Regions from separate parts of the Homo sapiens genome. Here region 1 is linked to region 2. Evidence: fine-mapped expression QTL. A gene starts in region 2. The other region holds a variant in brackets. All regions are shown on one strand. Distances are between the middles of the regions.

Region 1 (2,917 bases), 64 kb before region 2:
CCCCTGGGGGGAAATCACCACTGATTAAGAACTACTGGTGTAGGTGAAATGAAATAATTTTACTGAATCTGATACAAATCTTCATATATCTCACATGACTGTGTTTTAGAAGAATGATAAAACATTTTAGATTTGAATTTGGCGTAGATAATCAAACACTCTCTATTGAATTCAAAAGGTAGTCTTAGCATTGCCTAAATTAATCCAAGGAAAATCATAATATAAAACTGTTTTCCATGTGAGAAAATCAGAGTTTACAAGTCATGAAGAAGAGCTATTTAGTGGGGTTTGATTTACCATCACACTTTTTTCAGACAGTATTTTGAAGTGGAAGCATCAGGTTGTCAGGTTCAGTTGGCAAGACCTGACACTGTTCACTCACACAGTAGCTCTCTGGCCTTAGGCAACTTCTCATCTGCTCCCTCATCTATAAAGTGGGGGTAAAGAGGTGCAAAGAAACATTGTGTGTGAGAGACCTCAGAAGTAGGGGAGTGCAGGACAAATATCATCTTTATAACTTAAGCTTTTATTATTAAATTCCTTTCTTCACATCATAAAACAGTAGAAAACATTGTTTTTGTTTTTTTTTTTAAACTACATAGAATAAAATTGATGTCCTAATGTTCTAAAGAAAAAAAAAGAAAGGAAAACATATAACCTCATACTGGGAAATGAGAGTAAAGAGGGACCAACATGCACCAGATGCCCATTACGAGGTAAATATTGGGCTGGGCACTGTGCAGCCTGTCCAAAAAAAAAAAAAAAAAAAAGACATGGAGAGATGGTCAAGCTGAAGGAGACAGGAATCAGTAGAAAGGCTCTGATAGGACCAGCCAGTACAAGAAAATGATTTGAGTGCACAGTAAAGTGAAGAAAAATAGAAATCTGAGGAATAGGAATGGCTTAGAAAGTGACTATTAAAGTAATAATAGAGAAAAACATCCAACTGCAGAATTTTTAACTTATCAAAATGTGAAGAGCATAATGGCATTTATGTTTTCACAATTATTTCCCATTAGGTTAAAAAATATGGGAAAAAGACATCAAGTATTTTACCTAAATACTATATTTAGGAAGATTTAATTTTGATATAACTTAATTACTAATTCTAATTTCTAATATAATCTCCTCTTTTAAAAGTGCAATAATTTGAAAAATAAACACAAAAATAAAAACAAAATAAAAAGATTATATACCACTAAATAAATTTTGAAAATGCATTTAATAAATGCTGACTCTCAAATAGGTAAAGTCATTTACCAAATGATAAAGTGGCAGCCACTGTCAAATGTTAAATGTTTATGACTTAAACTTGGAAAAAATTTTAGTTGACTAGGATATTCTATCTTGAGTGCTTAATAACTTAAAGAAAAATTAATATTATATATGCTTATGTTTTCTAATACTTCATAACATTTTCAAATAGCTTCATTGTCATAAGCATTTAGCTTCTACAGCTCACACCATAATGTAGTTTTAAAGTGTATTTGAATTCCATAAGCACCCATTCATCATGCATTTGGAAACAATACCTTTACTTAGCAATTGTCACATAGTGTCAGTTAGTATCATTGTCATTTGGAAAATGCTTCACAGTGAGAAATGTGTTACTCTGACTTGTGACTTCACATGCACAGCTCCAGTTACATGTCTACAGATGATAAATA[TA/T]ATGGTCTTTTTTTCCAATAGAACTATAAATTTAAGGAAAAGAAAGTAACTTGGAATAGAAGAATTGGCAGATTAGGTAACAGAAAAAGCCAAACTGCATGTCAGCTAGGTCTCCATTTTCTTCCTCTGGCTATCTCCCATGTTCCTGGAGCTGTTGGTAGCAATTTCAAAAATGTGTCTTATTGGTTGAAATTTGCCATATTCCCTTCCCAAATAAGGGTATTATTCCACTTGATTGTCCAGTTCCATTTCTCAGGCTTTTGCTTAATTCACTTCTATTTATTCAACTGTTCACCGGGTCTCCCTGATTGTGCCCTCTTAGTGCTTCAGGGTGCCACCACTCACATCCTGGAGCTTGGAGGGACAGGTGGCTCTCTTTTTGGAGACTGCAACATTACAGGCTCATATCCATTCTCTTCTTGAGGAACAATAGGCTATTTTGTGCAACCGTACAAAATAACCCATAGGTTTTTCAGAAAAGAGGGAAAAAACCAAAAGAACAACAAAGATATGAGATTTATGTGGTCCTTTTCCTAGTTGTATTCTCCTAAGCCGCAGAGATGCCACTCACAGACAATGCTCTTAAATCCACCTCTGCAATCTTTGGACATGTGGGGCAGGTGGTGGAGGGAGAGGTCTTTGTGCTCACATGGTTGGTGGGTGGGGAGAGAAGAAGGTGGCAGGTGTCAAGACTGCTAGCTCTAATTCTGTTCACTGAGAGGTGTTTGGTGTATTCTTTTTGGAGATGTACCCAAACTGTCTTGATGATATATTTGGCTCTCCGTTTTGGAGAATAAAAACCCAATATGTCATGCTATGTATAACAATACAAGTTTTCGTGCCCTTTTTCTCCTTCTTAAATTAGTGTTCTTCAATATAAGGACAGCGGAAACAGTGTGAAATAATAAAGACCACAAGCTTTTCTTAGATTCTTTTGCATGCCTCAACAGGGACACCACATTCTGCTTTTGACACAAAATAAAATTACCCAAAGAAGTCTCAAAGCAAGACATTAGAGAGTTTTTAAAAACGATTATATTAGCAGAAGCTTTCAATTAGTAGCAAAGTGGAAATACACTGCGTGCCCACATGGGCCATCTCTTTTTGGGAGTTGAGGCTCCACATGGCTTAACTGGAAGGCAGAAAACATTGTACCTTCTCAGGAGCATACAAGATTTAAGGAGGAGGTTGAAACAAACTCTTTATTCCAGAGAAAACAATATAATATAATGTAATATGATATAGTTAA
Region 2 (2,917 bases):
TGTAGGTGTTGCTGCCATCATGCTGATACACCACTCGCCCTGCTGCCAGGTCCGCTGGTGTGAAATACTTGCACCCAGCAGGTGCCCCAAACACCACCAGCTGCCCATGTCTCAAGCCCCTGACTGCAGCCATTTTCACCTCTTCCAGGTTATCTTTATCACTGATAGGAATGCTGTGGGTGCTGGACAAGGGCCTTGACTGACCTTCAAAAAGCACAAGTCCCCTGTTATGGCTAGCCACTGGGACCAGAGTATTCATGGATTTCACTGTCACCATGAAGGCAAAGGGGTCTGAGGCGGCGCCGTCTCCGTCCACCACCTCCAGCTCCAGCTGAAAGAGGCGCTCCCCATGGGAGTTCTCTGCAGGGGGCTGATAGGCAATCTTCAGCTCCCTCAGCTCCTGCTGGGTGAAGAAGGAGACTGGAAGCCCTAGAGGGTCGTCGGTGCTGACCACGTAGCCCTGTTGCCCCGGGTGCCCTGGTGGGTGAGTGGGGGCGTTCAGAATGTTGAACACCAGGTCACCAGGGTCTGACTCGACGTCCTCCGCGGCCAGTGCGTCAGGCGTCAGGGCTGTCAGCACCAGTGGATCCACCTCCATCATCATCGTGGCCATGAAGCTGGGCCTGGGCGGTGTGTTCTCGGCTCCGCCGCGGATCCTCACGAGCAGCTGGAAGTGCTCGCGGACCAGCACACCCGCGGACCCAGCGTCTTGGCCCTCAGGCCCCAGCAGCTCCACCATCATGGGCACGTAGTCACGGTTGGGCGAGGAGGTGGCTGTGTGCTGATAGCGCACCCCAGCACGGAGGAAAGCCTCACAGTCTACGCCCTTGCCCCTGGGGAGAGGGGCCCCCACCGCGTCCACCAAGCGCCCGTACTTGGGCAGGGGGCCGTCCTCGTGAGGAAGTGGGGTAAGCCGGCACCTGCGGGTGGCCGTGGCTCCAGACTTCAGGGAGGCGAAGTCCAGCACTCTCCTGTCTATGGCGCGGCTCCAGCTTCGCAGCTTCTCCACTACCAAAGGCCTGTTACGCGTCACCAGCTCCAGCTGGGAGAAGACCAAGTCCACCGCCAGCGTGAAGGGCAGCACCAGAGTGTGAGTCGGGGCGTCGTAGCGCAGCTGCAGCAGCACCCGGGCGCGTCCGGGGCTGTGGGAGCCGAAGTGAGTGTACTGGACTTGGCGGGGCCCGAAGGTGCAGGGGAAGCGGCGCGGGGAGAGCGCGCCCTTGAGCCGCGGCAGGGCGTCCAGTACCGTGACTTCGCACCGGTCCCCCGGCTGCACTCCAATCACCAGATCCCGGAGCGGGTCGAGCCAAAGGGAACGACCCAGGGGCACCCGGAGTCCAGGGTTGGCAATCAGCACGCTGGGGCCGTCGGGGCGAGTGCCGTCAAGCGCACCCCGGGCGGGCAGGTAAAGCGCCGGGTCGGGCTCGGTCCCAAGTGAGGATGCCCGTCCCTGCAGCGCGGGGCGACTCAAGAGCAGGCAGGCGAGCGCCACAAGGAGCTGCCGGGGCGTCCCAGTCGGGTGCCGAGAAGCCCCCGCCATGGCCACGGATGGCTCCTGGCGTTGGGATTCCCGGGGTGGGGTGCCCTGTGCAAAGAGGGATCTGCTGAGCGGCAGGTGCAGGCAGTGGAAGCAGTAGCTGCTGTCCAGTCGGTAGCCGACTTGCGGATCCAGCAAGAGCCAGCGGCTGCGCTTCGGCTGCTGCAGGTAACGGCAGCGGGGGAAGGGGCTCTGCCCACTTCCTGCTCAGCCCCGGTCGCAAGTCTCTCTCTGCTGGCTTCTGGGGACCCCAGATACGCGCCCAGCGCGGCGAGACTTAGCGAGGGTGCAGCGCTGTCCCCTCCGCTCCTGGGCGCTTCACCCAGCCTACCTTACACACCTTCTCGCCGGGAGCCGTGGCCGCCGCACTGCTGCCCGCGCTGCCAGACTCCGACCAGCTGTCTGGATACTCTCTTCCCCAGGTGCCACAAAGGGATTGTCCCTCAGGGTTGGGAGAGAGACGGTGACTGTACTCGGGTCAGTCCTGCGTCTGTGAGATTGAGCTCCTGTTGTCCATTCATCCAGGGATTGGTGTTTCTGAAAAGGGGGAGAGACACCATTCCTCTTCCTTACCGCTGACAGGAGTGTATCTTCTAGCCAAAAACTGAGTCTCACTTCGGACATAAAAGAAGCTGGTGGGAGCTATTTTGCAAATAGGATTTTCTAGCTGTCTGTCTGATGAAGCAGCTTATTCAGGATCTTGTAATTCGGTGCTTCCAAACAACCCTGACGTTTTTCTTCTGCTCAGGTTTTGAAAAAGAAAATCAGCACCCAAACTTACTTGAACAGCTTGTAATCTGGGTTTTTTTTTTTTTTTTTTTTTTTGTCATTGGGTCTCACATAACAAAATCAGGTGTGCGGCTCGGCTTCCTTTCGTTTTCTTAGAATGTGGTTTCCATATCTGATCAACAATGACTTGCCTGTTAGTTTATTAGACATGCTGTTTTCTAATTACTTTCTTCGTAGACAGTAGCCAGAGGGGAGGATGTCAAAGGAAACAGTAGCAGAATACTTGGATCAATTTCTGTGGCTCAATCATTTAACACCTGGAATCAGTCTCTTCATGGCTTTCAGATGAAGGTGACTATGGATGTAGTGTTAGGTACTTAACAGAATCCTATTAATTTTTTAAGTTTTAAAATAGCCAATTTAGTTACAGTGCAGAGTAATCTTTTTCTATAAATAAAGTAGTAGTAATAGTAACGTGCTTCCTTATAAAATTAATGTGAATGTGAGAGACTTTTTGATGACAGTAAAAATAGATGTCTACAAACTATATTGATAGAAATGGCTTCAAGGGGGAATAGAAATCTTTAAATGTTATCCCCATGTTATTCTTTTAGTTTTTTACCGTGTTACAAATGCCTGTTTTATTCACAG

Which allele goes with the higher level. Positions count from the first base shown, and alleles are read on the strand shown. Sizes are in standard deviations (SD) of each study's normalised expression.
For the expression in prefrontal cortex of the gene that starts at base 1,540 in region 2, allele TA in region 1 goes with a higher level than allele T (small effect, 0.30 SD a copy in ROSMAP).

Evidence for each region. PIP is the estimated chance that this variant, and not a neighbour inherited with it, causes the effect.
Region 1: its variant is the best candidate, but not a certain one, in a credible set for the expression of FREM3 in prefrontal cortex (ROSMAP, PIP 0.71).

What each region holds. Positions count from the first base shown.
Region 1 is chr4:143,635,584-143,638,500 of GRCh38, forward strand. All of the region lies in intron 2 of FREM3 (FRAS1 related extracellular matrix 3), which reads right to left. Among named protein-coding and RNA genes, the nearest start is that of FREM3, 64 kb to the right of the region's middle. The variant TA/T (reference allele first, on the strand shown) is at 1,668.
Region 2 is chr4:143,699,136-143,702,052 of GRCh38, forward strand. FREM3 (FRAS1 related extracellular matrix 3) reads right to left here and starts at 1,540. Exons shown (of 8, transcript NM_001168235.2): 1 at 1-1,540. The coding sequence starts at 1,540. RefSeq lists an enhancer at 907-1,564.